2 separate regions of the Homo sapiens genome follow, and region 1 is linked to region 2. Evidence: fine-mapped expression QTL. Tissue or cell type: whole blood. Region 2 holds a variant in brackets; the other region holds the start of a gene. All regions are shown on one strand. Distances are between the middles of the regions.

Region 1 (9,995 bases), 41 kb before region 2:
TGATCATCCCACTTCAGCCTCCCAAGTAGCTGGGACTACAGGCGAGCGCCACCATGCCAGGCTAATTTTTGGATTATTTTTTTTTGTAGAGATGTAGTCTCATTAGGTTGCCCAGGCTGGTCTCAAACTCCTTGGCTCATGCAATCCTCCCACCTCTGCCTCTCAAAGTGCTGGGATTACAGGTATAAGCCACTACAGCAGGCCCATAACTGGAGAATTTGGAGTCTGATTTTTCTCATTTGGCCATACTTCCTAGGGAAATTTTAGAACCCCAAAACAGCAGCCTTAAGATTGGGCTGGGAGTGTTCTGGAGGAGGCTAATGCTAGTTACTTCTGCTAGCAAGGAGAGCTAGCATATTAGAGTGAAAGGAAAATCAGACTTTACGTCAAAATATGTAAGTTCTTGCCTTGGCTCTGGCCATAGCTAAATGTAAGAAACTCACTGAAATTTTCCAGATCTCAGATTCTCTTTCTGGAGAATGTGTGGTTTGGAGAAGATGAATTTTAAAGGCTCTTTCAGCACTAAAATTCCACTTCTAGTGTTGAAACATACACAAATCACAGCAGAAATGTTTATTAGTAACGCCTACTGCATACAAAAATTATAGCAGAAATTGTATTAAAAATGTCAAATACGTTCATAGTATCTCTGTATTCTCCCTCAAATTCCCATCTACTCCTCAGCTTGTTGAACCTCAACAGTAAGAAGGCTCCCAGTCAAAAAAGATGTCCTCAGACCCAGGCCCAGAAGTGCCTTCTTAGGAAAAGTGAATAAATGATGGCAGCAGCAATGGCAGCAGTAGCTGTAACCCCCAAACAGGAATGGGAAGACAGGTGGCCCCATTTTCAGTCTTTCGAGGTTGAGTGAGCAGCTGATGTGGGCACGCTTCCCTCACAAACATGGGTCCTACTGCTAAGATTCCAGACATCAGCCTGCAGCCAATCATGGCTGTACAGCCTTTGACCTCCACAGACGACTCAATGCCACCTATAGAACAAGGAAGGATCGGGAGAGACAGAGATGTTTTAGGACATCAGAGGAGAATCCAGTCCCCCCTCATCCCTGGAGAGCTCAGTGTCAGAATCTCTGGGGAGCCACTCAAATGGTTTTCCAGCCTCTGAAACTATCAGATGTTCATTTCAGTTTACCTCCAGTGATCTCAAGTTTTCCTTGATAGCATCGAGTTGTACCATTGGGACAGGGAAGAGAAGGAGCACTGAAACAGGTCCCCAAAGCCACACAGGTTGGACAATGGAGGGTTGTTGACACAGTGGAAGCTGGAGGGAAATGAGAGAGACAGTTAAGGGCAGGTCCTGCCTCCAGAGATGTTGCTCCTTGCTGCCTTCTCTTCCCCAAGATTTTCCTGCAGATGCCACTCTAATCAAGGCCCATTACTTCAGCCTCCCCATCCTTCCCCAGCTGGTGTTCTCTGCTGTGAAATCTCCATCGATCTGACTTCCAAACTCTGCTGAGGTGTGAAGATACAGAGATGAAAAGGACATAGTTCCTGTCACCTGGCATCTCTGCCTAGGAGAAAGACATGTAAGTAATCAATTCAGTAGCTGCTGTGTTCAAGGTATAATGACAAAGGAATGGAGGAATACCCAACTACCTAAAAGAATTTGGCAAATATTTTCAAAGAGCTGATACCTGAATTGACATGGAGGATGAACAGGGGTTAGCTATGTGAAAATGGGGTGGGGAGGGTAGTAAAGGAAACAGCAAGGACAAAGGTCAGGTGGTGTGAGCCAGCTTGGTGGATTCAGGGAATTGTGAGAAGTTGCACGACTCATATTCAGCTTGTAGGCCCAGCTGTTTCTTTGATCTGTTTTTTTTGTTTTTGTTTTTGTTTTTTATGGCCAGAATCCATTTTGATTGGCCAGTGCCATCTACATTGTTAAGCATTTTGAGTATTAGCCCCAGTTAGCACACAGTAAATGAGAGAGGGAAGAGAGGGAAATGAAGCTGAAAAGACAGGAAGGGCCAAGTTACTACAGGCCTTGTAAATTGGGGAACTGGGCCGTTCTCGTGCAGCAGTGGGAAACCAATACTTGTTAGACTGATAATACCACCCTGTTCGGAAACCTACACTGATGTCTTATTGCTTTTTTTTTTTTTTTTTTTGATGGAGTCTTGCTCTCTGTCCCAGGCTGAAGTGCAGTGGTGTGATATTGGCTCACTGCAACCTCTGCCTCCTGGGTTCAAGCAATTCTCCTGCCTCAGCTTCCCGAGTATCTGGGATTACAGGTGTGCGCCACCAGGCTAAGCTAATTTTTGTATTTTTAGTAGAGACAGGTTTTCACCATGTTGGCCAAGCTGGTCCCAAACCCCTGACCTCAGGCGATCCACCTCACCCAGCCTGTCTTATTGCTTAATAAACACAAAACCCAGTTTACACTCCAGGCTTCACTGGTATCTCGCTGCTCTGAGCAGTGTTTAGATCCCAATGAACAATTCAGAAACATAAAATTACTTGAACTGTGAGGTACTTTGGGGTATGGACCACTTAGGCTAAGCCAAGTCAGAATGCAAAGGGAGGCCATACACAAGCTCTTTATGGAGTTTCTCTTAGTACCTATCTCCCCCACTTCCAGGGTACCTGTGGTCTCACTGAACTCCCAAAACTGAGACAGGCTGTCTTTGTCATTACAGAAGGAATCCTCACAGTAGTTACTGTAGGAGGTCACGATCAGGCCGGGAGGTGAAGAGTGCTGGACAATTGTTATGGCCTCCTCCCCTTCCGGGATGCAGCCCTTCGTGGCCAAAATGGCTGTCTCAGTCCCTGTTATGAGACAGGAAGGAGGGGAAATGGATGGTGGCCGTCACAATTGGCCTGGACGAAGGGAACAAGCATTGGCATGGAGATAATCAACCTCCCTCCTACCCAGCCCAAATGCCCCATCTCATTTCACCTGCTTTAATTATTAGTATGGTTTCCTGGCAAAGTGCCCCTTTGTCACAAGTCTCCACTTCCTCTGTGGTCCAGTTAAACATATTGGCTGGATCTGCTTCCACAGTCATGGACAGACCCTTTTGACAATACAGCTCTAGGCCCGCTGAGGAGAAAACAAGAAAAGGATAAGCACTTCTCCATGGGCCAAGGCGGCTCCCTTTTCATCATCAGTCCACCTTCTGTGACACACGGCTCTCCCCTATGTCCCCCATACGCACAGGTCAGGAGGGAGGCTCCTAGGACCAGGAGGATCAGCAAATGCTGGATACGAGGGGTTCCCATGGCTTCTTCTGGAGAGGTCTGGGAGGAGCTGGTCTGGATCTGTGAATTTGATGGAGAGAAGGCAATTAACTTTTCAGCCAGAGTGCATGAGATCAAATCTAGGTCCTGGCAAGTACTGACTTCAGGGTGGGGTGTTTTAATCTGCATTTTTTTTTTTTTTGAGACGGAGTCTTGCACTGTCGCCCAGGCTGGAGTGCAGTGGCGCAATCTCGGCTCACTGCCTCTGCCTATCAGGTTCAAGCAATTCTCCTGCCTCAGCCTCCCGAGTAGCCGGGATTACAGGTGCCCGCCACCACACCCAGTGAATTTTTTGTATTTTTAGTAGAGATGACGTTTCACCATGTTGGTCAGGCTGGTCTCGAACTCCTGATCTCAGGTGATCTGCCCGCCTCGTCCCCCCATAGTGCTGGGATTCCAGGAGTGAGCCCTGATGCCCGGCCTCACAGTGGGGTTTATGGTGTATATGACCACGACTTCTAAAGTCGTTCTGTCCCTAACCGGCTTGTGAGCTGGAGCGAGTTCACAGGTTTATCACGCCCCAGTTTTTCATGGTTTTAATTCTCAGGCCCGGCCACCCAGTGCCCTCCAACTTCAGGATCAGGAGTGTGGCCCTGAAGGCCGCTTCTCCCTCAGTCTCAGGGGTCCCTTACATTCTCTCAGGGACCCAGAATCTCGGCCCCCAGCCCCAGCCCCAGCCTCATCAGAACCCGGGATTCTGAGAGCCCAGCCCCGTCCTATGTAGGGATCGAGGAGTCTGGGTTCCAACCACCTTTTCCTGCGGGACACACCATTCTGGTCCCCTCCCTCTCAGGCCCGGGAGCCCAGGCCCCCAACCCTCGTTCCCCTCAGAGCCAGGATCTGGGTCCCCAGCCTTCTCTTTCCTCAGAATCCAGGAATCTGAGTCCCTAGCCTTCTTTTTCTCTTTAAAGAAGCAAAATTGCTGCCGGCTTCCAGGCAGACGCCTCACAAGAATCTCACGACGCCAAAGTTGAGGCCCGGAACGCCTTCTCCCCGGGCTTGGCATTCTCTTACGACGCAAGGCCGGGCCAGCCTGGCCACACAGCACTCGAAACCCCATTGGTGGATGCAAAAGCATCGGATAAGTTCATTGGATGAGCCTGGAGGAACGCGGCACCTCATTGGCCACAGAGAAGTCAATTCCTGGCAATCTCGGAGGGTGCGCATGCTCGGAAGGTGAGTGGCGGGCAAACCGGCCGGAAGATCCTGCCTGTTTTTGCAGCCAGAGGCACGCAATGGAGGGTGGGCAGTGCGTTGCCAGATGGCCTCGCCTGGCCCATTTCTCTTTTTGCACTCTGTTGTCTCTGCTTCTCCAGCCACACTAGGAGGTCAGACCCTTGGCCCTCACTCACGGAACTTATCTCCCTACCCAAATGGCCTCTCATGTTCCCAGCCTGGCCCCTGCCTCGGCACCCACCTTAGTGGCCCTAGCCTCTGGGAGTCAGCTTGGCCTCTTGAGTCTTCACTTGCAGTGGCCCCTGTGCAGCCCAGGCGTCTTCATCTGATTGCGCTATCGCACCAGCCTCCTCATGGTCTCCTGGAGGGTTGAATCTAGGAATGCCCCCCTCAGCATCACTTTGGGCACCCCGAATGCATGCATGAGCAGTAGCTATGATGGCACAGGCTGCTGTCAGATCGAACCCACGCGTCCGTGTCAGGACCATGAAGAAGACATGTCACTCGGATTTGTTGCTCATGGCTGGCAGTTCACTTTCACATCTATGTAACCTTCCCTTCCCTCCCCTCCCCTCCCTTCCCCTCCCCTTCCCTTCCCTTTTTGACAGACTTTTGCTCTTTTTGCCCAGGCTGGAGTGCAATGGCACAATCTTGGCTCCCTGCAACCTCCTCCTCCTGGGTTCAAGTGATTCTCCTACCACAGCCTCCCAGGTAGCTGGGATTACAGGCATAAGCTACCATGCCTGGCTAATTTTTTGTATTTTTTTTTTGGAGACAGAGCCTCTCTCTATCCCCCAGGCTGGAGTGCAGTGACGTGATCTCAGCTCACTGCAACCTCCCTCTCCCAGGTTCAAGCGATTCTCATGCCTCAGTCTCCCCTGAGCAGCTAGGATTACAGGCACCTGCCACCACACCTGGCTAATTTTTGTATTTTTAGTAGAGACGGGGTTTCGCCGTGTTGACCAGGCTGGTCTTGAACTCCTAACCTCAGGTGATCTGCCCACCTCGGCCTCCCAGAGTACTGGGATTACAGACGTGAGCCACCACCCCTGGCCTATGTAAGCTTTCCAGGTGTGACATGAAGTTGTAGCAGGATGAGCTGCAGACAAAACTCCTCAGATACTGGATTAAAGAAGGAAGAGGTTTATTTGGCCGGGAGCCTCAGCAGACTTGCGTCTTAAGAGCCGAGCTCCCTGAAAAATAAATTCTTGGCCTTTTTTTTTTTTTTTGGAGTCTCCCTCTGTTGCCCAGGCTGGAGTGCAGTGGTGCAATCTCGGCTCACTGCAAGCTCTGCCTCCCGACTTCATGCCATTCTCCTGCCTCCGCCTCCCGAGTAGCTGGGACTACAGTCACCCACCACCACACCCGGCTAATTTTTTTGTATTTTTAGTAGAGATGGGGTTTCACTGTGTTAGCCAGGATGGTCTCGATCTCCTGACCTCGTGATCCGCCCGCCCCCCAAAGTGCTGGGATTACAGGCATGAGCCACCACGCCTGGCCAATTCTTGGCCTTTTTAAAGGCTTACAACTTCGAGGGGTCCACATGAAAGGGTCGTGATAAATCGAGCAAGCGTGGGAAACGTGACTGGGGGCTACATGCATCAGGTAACAGAACAGAAAGTTTTGCAATGCTTTTTCATATAATGTCTGGAACTTACAGATAACACAAGTAGTTTAGGTCAGGGGTTGCTGTTATTATTATTACTTTTTTTAACTCCTAGGGCTGGGTGGTGGTGCCAAGGTTGACTGGCTATTTATCTTACTTCTGTTTCTTTCCAACTTTTTGCTTTCTCTCTTTCCTCCTGTCTTGTGAACTAGGCAAGGTCGGGGGAGGAGGGCAGCAGGAGTAGTAGTGGTCTCCTTCCTTAAAGTAAGGCAACGCTTTGTATACTTTCAGAATTGGTACTGATTCTGTAAGTTATAGTATAAATGAGTATTTATTTTTAATAGAGAAAATGCCACAATAAGAAAGGGATTGGTAAAGCTTCAATCCCTTTGTTATCTTTGAACTGTTATCTTTGAATGATCACATGTCAAAGGATCCAGGAAGAATGTGTGCCAGTTTTCAGCCCCCGTCTGTCCCCCGAGGGCTCGTGCTTGGGAAAGCAGTCACCTTGTTGAGTCACTCTCCAGGTGACTTGGTCGCAGAATCCCTCCATCTCACACCTAGAAGAGACCTTGGAAGCCTAAGCACCCTCCACCTCTATTCTTCACCCCATTTCTGCTTCAACAGCTCCAGGGACCTCCTCTTGCTCCGTGACATAGTTTGGATATTTGTCCCCCGCCCAAATCTCATGTTGAAATGTAATTCCCAGTGTTGGAGATGCGACCTGGTGGAAGGTGTTTGGGTTATGGGGGCAGATCCTTCATGACTTGGTGCTGTCCTTGCAATGATGAGTGAGTCCTTGCCAGATCTGGTTGTTTAAGTGTGTGGCACCTCCCCTTCTTACTCTCTCTCGCTCCCCTTCTCTGGCCTGCATCCTTTTGCCATAAGTAAAAGCTCTCTGAGGCCTCCCCAGAAGGAGATGCTGGCACCACGCTTCCTGTACAGCTGCAGAACCTTGAGCCAATCAAACCTCTTTTCTTATAAATTACTTCTAGTCTCAGGTATTTCTTTATAGCAGTGCAAGAACACCCCAATACACAGCCCCTTGAGAAAGGTGGCTTTGCCTTTTTGGTGCAAGAGAGATTGACAGATCTTCCTTAGCCTGAGCCAATTTCTGTTCCTCTCCAAGCTTCAGTGTCCTCATCTAGAAAATGAAGAGGTTAGGCTGGGTGCAGTGGCTCAAGCCCATAATCCCAGCACTTTGGGAGGCCAAGGTGGGTGGTTCACCTGAGGTCAGGAGTTTGAGACCAGCCTGACCTTCACCAACACGGTGAAACCCTGTCTCTGCTAAAAATACAAAAATTAGCCAGGCCTGGTGGCACGCGCCTGTAATCCCAGCTACTTGGGAGGCTGAGGCAGGAGAATCACTTGAACCTGGGAGGCGGAGGTTGCAGTGAGCTGAGACTGCACCATTGCACTCCAGCCTGGGCAACAAGAGCAAAACTTGGTCTTGGTCTCAAAAAAAAAGAAAAAAAAGAAAAAAAAGAAAATGAGGAGGTTAGTCTAGAGCAATGGTTGGCAAATAGTTTATGAATCCATGGAACGTTTGTAAAAAAGAAAAAAGCTCAATGGCTAATATACAGTGAAGGCATCTTTTTATATAAGCACTTGTGACACCACCATTGGTCACTGGATTATTGCAGTACGCCCTGCCCTTGCCCATGTGGCTATTTCCCACCTGGCACCAGAGCGATCTCTTAATTGCAAGCCACACCACATTACTCCTGTTTAAAACTTTCTAATGGGCCAGGCACGGTGGCTCAGGCCTGTAATCCCAGCACTTTGGGAGGCCGAGGTGGTGGATCACCTGAGATCAGGAGTTCGAGACCAGCCTGGCCAACATGGTGAAACCCTGTCTCCACTAAAAATGAAAAAATTAGCTGGGCGTGGTGGTGCGCCCCTGTAATCCCAGCTACTCTGGATGCTGCAGCGAGAGAATCATTTGAACCTGGGAGGTGGAGGCTGCAGTGAGTCAAGATTGTGCTACTGCACTGCAGCCTGGGTGACAGAGCAAGACTCTGTTTCAAAAAAACCAAAACCTTCCAGTGGATTCTCATTTTACCTCAAGTAAGATTCTAGGCTGGGTGCCATGGCTCATGCCTGTAATCCCAACACTTTGGGAGGCTGAGGTGGGAGGATCGCTGGAGCCCAGGAGGTGGAGGTTGCAGTTGCAGTGAGCCGAGATAACGCCACTGTACTCCAGCTTTTGCTCTGGTGACAGAGCAAGACCCTGTCTCAAAAAAAAATTTTTTTTTTGTACTTTATAGTATAATTGGCTATGTGTGTTCATGTGTGACTGTGAGTGCATGCATGTTTGTGTGTGCACATGTCTGTATATATGTATGTCTGTGTGTATCTGTGTGCTGTGTGTGAATGTGTGTCTGATGTGTGTGTCTCGGTGTACATGTCAGTGTGCATGTGTGCATGGGCATGTGTGTATCTGGTTCCTTCCAGCTGTGTCTGATCCATCTCTGTGTACTCAGCATATGATTACAGTGTAGGTAAGTAAACATTTGCTGGATTAAAGAATGTCTCTTAGATCCAGAAATGAGAAACACACAACAGTGAGCCACCACATACCTCAGGCCCTCCGTATTCCATCCTCAGAATTTTTTCCATGCTTCCTGTATTCCTGGGGGAAAATTCCAACCTCCCACACTGGTCTTGGAGACCAGCCCCCATGCCTCACCCTTATCATTCCCTGTCTAATATCTATTCCCAGGACATCCCTAGTCTCTTCCAGCCTCTTTGGCTTTGCTCACACTGGTCCCTCTGCATGGGAGACCTCTCCCTAATCCGCTTCCCCCATGCATTTGTTTACCCCACAAACTCCTAATTGTCCTTCAAAGCCCATTCCTCCAATGCCCACAGCCCTCAGTGAAGCCGGCATAAGCATCGTGCAGCTCCCTTTTTGAGTGCTCCAGTTCTCCTACCAACAGGCCTATGCACACACCCAGTTCCCTCTCAAACCAACAGGCTTTTCCTTCCTACTTGTAAAGGATTGAGATCTTCTGCAAACCTTACAAAACAATGAGTTGTAAGCCTTGAGGTTAAACCACCAGTTTTACTTATTTTTTTTTTGAGACAGGATCTCTCTCAATCTTGTCCAGGCTGGAGTACAGTGGTGCAATCACAGCTCACTGCAGCCTCAAACTCCTGGGCTCAAACAATCCTCCCACTTCAGCCTCTTGGGTGGGAGTACAGGAACATGTCACCATGCCAGCTAATTATTTTACTATTAAACCCCAAGCCACAGAATGTCTTTTTGAAGACTGCTAATTACTAATCATAGAGGAAACACTCGCCTTGCTTACACTCACATTTGTTTCTCCTTTTCTTTTTTTTCCACAGAGATGGAGTCTTGCTCTGTCACCCAGAGCTGGAGTGCAATGGTGCAATCTTGGCTCACTGCAACCTTCGCCTCCCAGGTTCAAGCAATTCTCCTGCTTCAGTCTCTTTTACCTTCTGTTTTGAATTCTATTTTCTTTCTTTCTTTTTTTTTTTTTACTAGTACTTCAACTTTCTTGTGCTTACTGTTTGCATGGTATATCTTTTTCAATACTCACACTTTCAATAATGCTTTTCCCTATATGTAAAATATTTCCCTTGTAGACAGTATATATGGGTATTGCTTTTTTATGCAATTTGACCAATCTGTACCCCTTAATTGAAATGTTTGGCCTGTTAACATTGTTAGGTCTAAAGCTGCCTCCCTACTACTTTAAGTTTGGTCTAATGGTTTCTCCATACATAGTGAACTGTAACCTAACTTGATGTGTAAACAGTCTGTAACCTGCTATAGTAAAAATAGCTGAGTCTCAGCCAATCACAGGTACCCAACTAACTGTTCAAACCTGGTTCAAATAAGGCAAGCACCCAACTGTTAGCAGTCCAGCTATTTCAGTGCCTTCCTTAGTTTCTTCTACATCACTTTCTTCTGCGGTAGATGTTATCCAACC
Region 2 (9,995 bases):
ATTTAGGTGCTGCCATGGAAGAGAGTGCCAGGGAATGTCTCCATAAGAAGGGCTCCAAAGCAACAGGAAGCCATGGTGGGGAGGTGGGGGTCTTATAGGAATCCCAGCTTCCCTCCTAGAAGCAAAGTCTTCCCTGCCCCTGCCTCAGTTTCCTTGTCTGCCCACATCACGCTAACCCTTAGAGCTTAGAAGAGAGAGTTGTGTGAGCTCTGCACACATTCCTCTGTGTATTTGGCTGTTTCTCCCTAGCTAGGCTGGGAGCCTGAGGCTAGGGGCTTGGTACCACTGGCACCAGGGTTTCCAGCCTTGGGTAGCTCAGGAGACGGCTCAGGAAGGGTACCAGGAGGTGTTTGCTCAAGTGAGGACATGCAGGGCTCACTTGAGCAAAGCTCCCTCATGAGTCAGACCCTGTTTCTACCTGAAGGGCCTCCAGGACTAGGAGGGGGAGGTGCTACAGACACAGATGGTCACAGCTTGAGGTGATCAGGGCTGTGGCAAACGGGGATGTGGGGCCTGGGGCAGCTCAGAGGAGGAAAATACTGATGTTGTTGGGGTAGAGAGTCAAGGAGGGCTTTACAGAGGAGGTGGCCTGTGAACCGTGTGTTAAAGATGACCTACAGCTTATTGGTAGAAGAGGAAGAGGACATTGGTGGCAGAGGGAACAGTGTGTAGCAGCTGCATAGGCCTGGAGGTGGGAGTGAGCCTGCTGTTTTCAAGAAGAGTCCCTCACTCCACCTGAGAAGGACTCATCAAGATGAGGGGGTACAGCTGGGATTGGGGGTGATTCGAAGTTTTCCAGGTGGACAAGGTGGGTGTGGGGTCGAAGAGGGAGCTGCTCCAAGCCAAAGGCACAGCAGGTGTGAGGCTGAGGAGGAAATGAACTGGCATGCCTTCAGAATGGATACTGGTGGGGGAGGAAGAGTTAAGTGGGGAACCTGGTGGTCGCTCAAGTACCTGAAAACCCAGGCTGAGGGGTGGACCCTCTCCTGAAGGCAGGGGAGCCATGGAAGATTGTGGAGCAGGGAGGGCAGGGTCTGAGCCATTTATCTTTCCTTTTGACTGATGCTGCTGTTAAGGATCTGGCCCTGGTCTCTGGGACCAGATGACACTGATAACCCAGAAGGTATTTCAGAAACAAATCAGACGCAACACATGCCACACACACAGCCCACAATAAGCACAGCAGACACGAATGCGTCACACCATGACACATACACACCACACATCACATACCACACACACACTCCCCCATACCCCTGACATACCACCTATGGAACACAAATCACACACAGAGCACACAATATGCACAACACACACAAATGCATCACACGAGTGCACAATTACTACGTGTACATGTAGTGTGTATGCCACATACTACACGTCAGGTACCACACACACTCTCCCTCTCAACATATCAGACATGCAATACATACCACACACAACACACAATACACACAACACATCTGGCATGCCACACACACCACATGCAAGCAAAACACAGATACACAGAACACACACCACACCAAACACACAAAACAAACACATACCACATATATCACACACAGTATGTCTACACATGCACGCACCACACAAACATACCATGAACACACCACACACCCCATACAACCACACCCCCCACATGTATACTACGCACTCACACACAGCACACATACCTGCACACATCACGCATGTGCACACACTACACAAACGCACCACATAAAACACAGCGACTATGCACCAATCAGTGCTGTTCATAGAGATTCATCTTCTGCTTTCAACACTGGAGCCAGATCTTGCAGGCTGTTTTGCCTCCCTGGTGAAGTGCAGTTCAGCAGTTTAGCAGACAGTGAGCATCACAAGACCAGGCATCAGAAACTGGGGGAACAACAAGACGTTGGGGACCAAGTGCAGGAGAGAAGAGGCTTCAGGGTGATGGAACCGCTTATAAGAAGCCGCAGCAGTGGGAGGGCTGGGTGCAAGGATGCAGGTTACTAAAAGGGGCCATGGCAGCAGCCCCTTGTGAAGAACCAAGGGGCCCGGGCAGATAAGGCCCTGGCTGCCCCTAGAGGAGCTGGGCAGCGGTCCCAGTGAGAGAGCAGGGAAGAGCCCACGTCTGAATCAGGGACACGTGGGTCCCAGGCCCAGCTCTGCCGCCGAAACAGCTTTCCAGCCTCAGCTTCACACGAGGATCAAAAGTCTCCATATCTCATGGAGCCTCTTTCCCTGGATTTGGGGAAGAGGAGGGGATGGTTGCAGACATGGGACGGAAGCAGATGCAAAGACCATGATGTGGGTGAGTGCCTGCCAGAAACACCTGTGCGGAGCAGAGTGATGGAGGGAGCAGGGAGGCGGCCGCGTCTTATCAGGCCTCCCGGGCCATTGGAAGGGCTTAGAATTTTATTCTCCAGAATGGGGACCTCCTGGAGTCTTCGGAGCAGAGGAGTGACATGAACTGACTTAGGTTTACCTAGCCTCCCTCTGCCTGCTGGGTGGAGAATGGAGCGAGAGGAACAGTGACAGGCGGGTGCAGGGATTGCCCCAGGAGTCAGGTGGGAGTGAAGCGGGGGGCTTGGAGGCAGCAGAGGTGGTGACGTGGGGTTGGGTTTTGAAGATTTTCTGCAGCTCAAGCCAGTAGGATTACTTGAGGAACACAATGTGGGAGAGAAAGAGCGTGGTCAAGGACAACACCAATGTGTTCAGCTAGACTGGCAGAAACGAGCCGCCACGGGTGTAAGTAGGGGAGATGGGAGTGGGGAGAGAAGGGTGGGAGAAGGGAGCAGGAGCCATGATTTTGATTTTGTCATCTGTGAAGTATGCAAATGAGCAGCCCTCCAGGGTGGCATCGGTTCTGCAGGTCGCATGTGTTGGTGGAAGCTGGGGGCTCAGTCTAAGAGTCCCTGCATCATGGGACCGATCCCCCCTGCTCTGTGATGGCCGTGAGGGGAGGCCAGGGGCTGTGGTTTCACACTAGAGCCTTGAGGGCCTCGGGGCCAAGGTAGCCGAGGATGGTCTTCAGTACCTGTCTCCCTCCTGCTCCCAACCCCGACCCTGAGGGTCCAGAGTCCCTGGGTTCCCAGCCTACCTCTGCCACTCACAAGCTGTGTGGCATGGGCAGCTACTGAGCAATCCTGCCTCTGTTTCCCTTGTTGCAAATGAGGGTGTTGATTGTGATCACACCACCTACTGCTGGGGTGCTGTGGGGAAATGAGGCATCCCAGATAAGCTGTGTTCCCTGGAACCTTAGATGGGTGGATCTGTGGGAAGCAATGAGGTCAGCCAGGTGCAGAGGCAGTGCTCAGCGGCAGTGCTCAGCCCACCCTGGCCCTTCGCATCTTGTTTGGAACATAGGGCTTTGCAACTGAAAGGTATGAGAAAGGTCTCAGGCTGCCTTCCTTATTATTGAAATGAGGACCTTAAAGCTCAGATGGGGAAGCAGAGATGGGCAGAGGCTCAGGAAGAGCTTCCATTGCTCTCACAGCTGAAGCAAGGAATGGCTGTTCTCACAGGGCTGTGAGAGGACGTCCCTGCGGGTGTTCAAGCAGAAACAGGGAACAATGGGGGTGGGGTTTGGACTCCCAAGTCCCTTCTGAATCCGTGGTTGAGGGACTCCGTGGCCAGGTCACCTGGAGTGTGACTCAAGAGCATGATCACCTTCCCTAGCCCAGGACGTGGAGGGACAGACATGGTGGGTTCCTGGCTTACACAGACCCTGGGTTTCCTCTCCCCAGATGTTCTGACCTGTCATCGGGGGACCACCTTGAAGAAGCAGGAAAACTTGAGTAAAGAACCCACTGATTGGGCCACATCTAATACCGAGACGTGCGAGGTGGGGCAGGTGTGTCAGGAGATGCTGCTGCTCATAGATGTAGGTACGTGGACTGAGGTAGAAGACGAACACCTGTCCCAAGTCCCTGGCAGCTCCCTCCACCCCACTGGATTCTTTCCCCTGAATTTCCTGCTCAGCTCCCTTCACATCTGCAATTTTCAATCCGACTCTTCTTCTCTCTGCATCTTGGGTTCCCCTTATGAAAACTGGGGGTGAAGCAGTGGGAATGACAGTGTCTGCCTTTCTGGGGAGGGGTGACCACGTATGCGGTAATCCCTGCCCAGGGTGGAGAACCGTGCCAACACCGAGGACTCTCAGTGGCTTCATACATTCTGGAAATGTTTATCCAGCATTTGTTTTAGGTGCCGCAGATCCAATCCCATCTGTATTCCTGCAGCTTTATATGCCTTGAGAAACAGGAAACAAACAAACAAAAAGCAGCAAAGTATGGGGAATGGAGATCCCAGCTCTGGAGAGAAATCTGGCAAGGAAAAGGAGATAGGAAAAGTGAGGGGAAGGCTGCAATTTTAAGCTCAGTGCTCAGGGGAGACTCATGGAGAAGGTGACGTTTGAGCGAGAACTGGGAGGAGGCAGAGCTTCGGGCAGGACCCAGGCCCCAGCCTCCGTCTTTGCCCCACACTAAACATGACCCAGCAGTTGTGATCAGGGCATTCACCCTCTGCCTGGGGGGTATTGTGAAGGGCAGGGAGTCCAGCTCTGGAGCCCCTGCTGCCCTGGGAGCTGCCCAGTCCCCAGCCCAGCTTTCCCTCTCACCCTCAGGACTCACATCAACCCTGGTGGCGACCTAAAGCTGCAGCGCTGTTGGGGCTCAAAATTCCCAGAAGACCACCATCCACTCAGCCCCTCCTGGGGTGCTTGTGGCCTCCTATACCCACTTCTGCTCCTCGGACCTGTGCAATAGTGCCAGCAGCAGCAGCGTTCTGCTGAACTCCCTCCCTCCTCAAGGTATGGGATCCAGGGCCGTGGAGAAATGAGGCCCAGACACACAGAGACTCTGGCCCAAGGTGGGCAGCTGCTCTGAGCACAAAGTCATGTACCCCCACCTTCCCTCTGCTCCCCAGCTGCCCCTGTCCCAGGAGACCGGCAGTGTCCTACCTGTGTGCAGCCCCTTGGAACCTGTTCAAGTGGCTCCCCCCGAATGACCTGCCCCAGGGGCGCCACTCATTGTTATGATGGGTACATTCATCTCTCAGGAGGTGAGTGCTGCAAGCAGGGCCCCAAGGATGAAGGCGCTGGTGTCCTGGGCTCCTGGGACTGAGGGAGAAGGGGCTGGGGGCCTGGACTCCTGGGTCTGAGGTAGGAGGGGCTGGGGGTCTGAGCTCCTGCGTTTGAGGGAGGAGGGTCTGGGGCCTGGACTCCTGGGTTTATGAATTTGGCTGGGCTGTACTCTGTGTCCTTTCTGACTTGGTCTTCTCCCTCTAGGTGGGCTGACCACCAGAATGAGCATTCAGGGCTGTGTGGCCCAACCTTCCAGCTCCTTGTTGAACCACACCAGACAAATTGGGATCTTCTCTGTGTGTGAGAAGGGTGATGAGCCGCCTCCTGCCTCTCAGCATGAGGGAGGTGGGGCTGGGGGCCTGGAGTGTCTCACTTGGGGGGTGGGGCTGGCACTGGCCCCAGCGCTGTGGTGGGGAGCGGTTTGCCCTTCCTGCTAACT[C/T]CATTTCCCCCACGATTCTTCACCGCTGCTCACCACCACACTCAACCGTCCCTTGTGCTTGTAACCTAATGGCCTTGGACACCAGATTATTTCCCCATCCTGTCCATGAATCATCTTCCCCACACATAATCATTCATATCTACTCACCTAATAGCAACACTGGGGAGAGCCTGGAGCAGCCGGACTTGCCCTGTGGGAGAGGGGACACTGGAGGAGTGGCTGCATGTGTCTGATAATAAAGACCCTGTGCTTTCTCCCAGTGCTGGGATTTCTCCATGTAAGGGGACAGCAGGACGCCCAGGGATCTAGCATGGTGGAGGAGAGGAACCTAATGAGAAAATGGCCATCCAAAGCCTGCCCTTCATTGGTCTGGTTCATGTCTCCAAACCAGCTTGGATGGTAGCAGAGACTTCAGGGTGCTCCAGCCAAACGTATTTGGGCATCACCATGACCTGGGAGGGGAAGATGCACTGAGATGTATGAGGCTTCCAGCCTAGCAGCCAGGGCCCTAGCACAAACAGGGGGCTGGCCCCATCTGAGCGACTGCAGGAGAGGTTAGTATAGTCATGCATTGCTTTACGACAGGGACGTGTCGTTAGAAATGTGTCGTTAGGTGATTTTATCACGAAAGGAACATTGTAGAGTGCACTTACACCAACCCAGATGGTACAGCCCAATACACACCCAGGATGGATGGTAGAGTTGACTGCTCCTAGGCTACAAGCCTGCAGTGCATGTTATGGTGTGAATACTGCAGGCATCGTAACACCACGGCAAGTATTTGTGCATCTATACACATCTAAACATAGAAAAGGTACAGCATAAATACACTATTGTCATCTCAGGAGACCACCGTTCTATACGCAATTCGTCACTGACCCAAACGTTGCTATGTAGCATCTGCCTATTGTGGGATAATTGACATAAGGGCTAAAGAGAACTCCAGAAAAAAATGGGTTAGCATTTTCCCAGAGCTGTTACCATTGGGTATCTCTTACCACCATAGCCCAAAAAGGGTGAGGAGAAGAGCCACTGCTGGAATCTGCAGACAGAGAGAGAGAGAGAGAGAGAGACATAGACAGAAAGAGACAGAGAGAGCTGGAGAGAGAGCCGGAGACAGAAAGAGAGAGATATTCAGAGAGGGTTGCCTAACAAGAGCTCCCATCTCAGGCTGAAAAACGCGTCCAGCCCGCAATGATACTGGGGAGGGAAGTGGGGAACTAAAATTCCAAACTGATGTCCTCACTCTGGTCTCCAGTTGAGGTTCCCCATTGACTGAACCCCCTAGAGGCCACAGAAGCAGGAGACTCCACTGGTCCAGCCCCCATAGATCTGCCATTCACAGTAGAGAACAGAGGAGAGGAAAGGGAAGAGGAGAAGAGAGTGAATCTGGAGAAGGAAACAGAACACGTCTAGCACCGTTCACTCCCTTGCCCCTCGGCATCCACCCTTTCCCTTTGTCCAGATGAAAATCAGAGTCCAGGACAGGCTCGGTGGCTCACGCCTGTAATGCCAGCACTTTGGGAAGCTGAGGTGGGAGGATCACTCGAGCCCAGGAGTTTGAGACCAGCCTGGGCAACATAGTGAAACTGCTTCTCTACAAAAAATACAAAAAATTAGCCGGGTGTGGTGGTGCGTGCCTGTCTGTAGTCCCAGTACTTTGGGAGGCCGAGGCGGGCAGATCATGAGGTCAGGAGATTGAGACCATCCTGGCTAATACCGTGAAATCCAGTCTCCACTAAGACAACAAAAAATTAGCCGGGTGTGGTGGTGCACGCCTGTGGTCCCAGCTACTGAGAAGGCTGAGTCCAGAAGGTCAAGGCTGCAGTGAGCCAAGACTGCACCACTGCACTCCAGCCTGGGGGACAGAGCGAGACCCTGTCTCAAGGGGGAAAAAATAATCAGAGTCCTCCGTACAGACGACACACAATTCCAGTCCTTCCCTCTGTCACAGTAACAGTGTGTGATGGTGACAGTGATGTCCTCCTCCCATTGTGCTGTGCACCAGTTCTTCGCCCACAATGAGAGGAAGATGGGGAAGAGATGGCTTCCAATACAGCTGCTGAGGTCCTGGGGGCGGGGCTGCTGGTGCTCAGAGCTGCTTTCTTCCAGTACATTCCACATTGTCCTCCCACCTCCAAAACCTCCTTTGGATGTTATTTGTTACCTGCAGTGTAACCCAAATCTTGATTCTTATGGAGAGTGAGTCTTGGATGGCCTTGTCTTTAGTGGGTTTCTATAGTTTTCCATGGAACAGGGCCCTGGCCAAGGAAATGTTACCGCCATGAGTTGCCTGCCTTCGAAAATAGCCTCCTTGTCCCAGCCACCCGACCTCCCTCTGTAATCAGATGCCATTCCCCCGACTGCAGAGTGACGTCTCCTTTGCCTGCTGTTTTGGCAGCACAAGGGGCACAGGATGGCTGGAGGGCTGTCATGGCTTCCTGCAGATCAGAACTAGGAAGAGATTCCTCATCCACAGCAGCCCAGGGCCACGGGGACAAAGAGCAAGCATTCTCTCAGTGGGCTGGCAGGTGCAGTCACGGGAGGGAGCCGCGCTTATTCTTCCTGTCTTTCCTGGATCTTTGCATCTGGCCCTGGGGCGCGTGACCCGATAGCCTGGTTGCTGGTTTATAAGATGTGTGGCCCCTCCTGTGGGTGGTGGGGTACGGTCTCCCTCCCGGTGCCCTGATAAGCCACACATGAGCCATTGCGCCAATCTGAGAAGCAGCTGTGTCTGTATAGAGGGGCACCTGAGACGGTCAGTGGGTTCCATGGGTGTGAGTTAATTACCCCCCATTCTTTGCGTTAACACGTGTCCCCAGTGGAAGCAACCCTGCATGGGTTCCAGAGCCACAGGAAAGGCGCTGTTCACAGAAGCACTGAGCAGGGTCCAGGGAAGGCCAACTGGAACCCCCAGTGTGTGCGTATCCGTGTGAGGACAAAGCCCAGTCCCCTCCAGGATGGGACGTGTCCTGTGTGGCCAGCCTATCTGCAGTGGCCGGGTAGTCCTCCTGTAAAATGACGCCTTCCAGGGGCTTAGCCCCGGGCTCTGCCTACACTGGGCAGGGCTGGGTACAGTGTGCAGCCAGGCCAGTGCTGGGAGACTCAGTCCACTTGTGGTAAGGTACGTCGCCGTCCTCCCTATCCATGTGGCCATCTGCACCTGGACCCCCTGAACAAGCTCTGAGGGACAGAGTCTGCCTGACACCATCCACCAAACACCAAGAACCTCATCCCCACAGCACAGGTTCTGGGCTTAAGGGTGGGGACGGCATAGCTCACACTTTGTGCCCATCCCCAGAGGAACATCCATGTGTCCTCCCTGTCTTAAGTTTACTCTTTTATTCTCTTCAAGTCCTTGACCATGTGGCCCGCTCTGGGTTCATGCAATGGACCCAAGTCCATCCCTCCTTGCAGAACCCCTGAGGTTCTGCCCATCTGAAGGATTTCCCTTCATCACTCCTCAGGACCACCTGAAGTGGGCACTAAGGCAGCCGCCGTCCACTTCTGCTGGGCGCCAGCTCACCGTGAGGACCCATCCATAAGCCTGGTCTGCACTTTCCTCCTCTGTATGAGGTCACAGGGCTTCCCAGGAGCTCACAGATGTGGTAGAGGGAGGGGCAGGAGGACAGGTGCCATGGGAGCCTGAGTCACTTGCAGTCGGGGGAACGGCATCTCATTACAGAGGGAGGTCAGGTGGCTGGGACAAGGAGGCTATTTTCGACCTTTGGGAATTACAGCTGAACGTGAGATTTGTGTTCGGACAGAGGAAAGCCATATCATTTGGCTTGTTTACACCTTTGGCTAGTGTGAATAATGCTGCTATGAACAAAGACATGCAGATACCTGCTGGGGCCCCTGCTCTCAGTTCTTTTCAGAATACACCAGAAGTAGAATTGCTGCATCGTGTGGTAAGTCTATGATTAATTTTTTGAGAAATGACCACAGTGGTTGTGCCATATTATATACCCACAAACACTGCACAAGCATTCCAATTTCTCCTCGCCAACACTTTGTTTTTTTTTTTTTTTTTTTTTTCAGAACTGCCATCAGAACAGATGTAAGGTGGTATCTCACTGTGGTTTTGATTTCCATTTTCCTAATGATAAGTGATGTTGACCAAATTTTATTTGCTTATTGGCCATTTATAAATTCATTTTACATTTCCTCCTTTGTAATGCCAGAGGTGGCACACTGTGCACTGTTCTGCTTCTTGTTTTTCTCACTGTGCAGTGTATCTTGGAAGTCTTTCCAAGTGGGTCGACAGAAGGATACTTCAATAAAAATGGGCAACACCGCTGGACAGCCATCAGAGCCATGAAGTCCCTGGCTTAGGGGAAGGCAGAAGGAGGGTGAGAAACAGAGAGATCGAGAAAGGCAGAGAGAGAATGGGGGCAGGGATGGAGAGAGAAAGAGAAAATGATAAAGACCCAGAGAGAGACAGAGTCAGAGATATATGGGGGTGGAGAGGGGAGATACAGAGAGAGGCAG

Evidence for each region. PIP is the estimated chance that this variant, and not a neighbour inherited with it, causes the effect.
Region 1: it holds the start of TEX101, and the variant in region 2 is fine-mapped to the expression of TEX101 in whole blood (INTERVAL, PIP 0.99).

What each region holds. Positions count from the first base shown.
Region 1 is chr19:43,409,161-43,419,155 of GRCh38, reverse strand. TEX101 (testis expressed 101) reads right to left here and starts at 4,266. Exons shown (of 6, transcript NM_001130011.3): 1 at 4,118-4,266; 2 at 3,173-3,275; 3 at 2,914-3,057; 4 at 2,601-2,783; 5 at 1,150-1,278; 6 at 559-988. The coding sequence starts at 3,236. The coding sequence ends at 759. RefSeq lists a silencer at 5,879-6,065.
Region 2 is chr19:43,368,249-43,378,243 of GRCh38, reverse strand. It overlaps the pseudogene CD177P1. Among named protein-coding and RNA genes, the nearest start is that of CD177, 20 kb to the right of the region's middle. The variant C/T (reference allele first, on the strand shown) is at 5,505.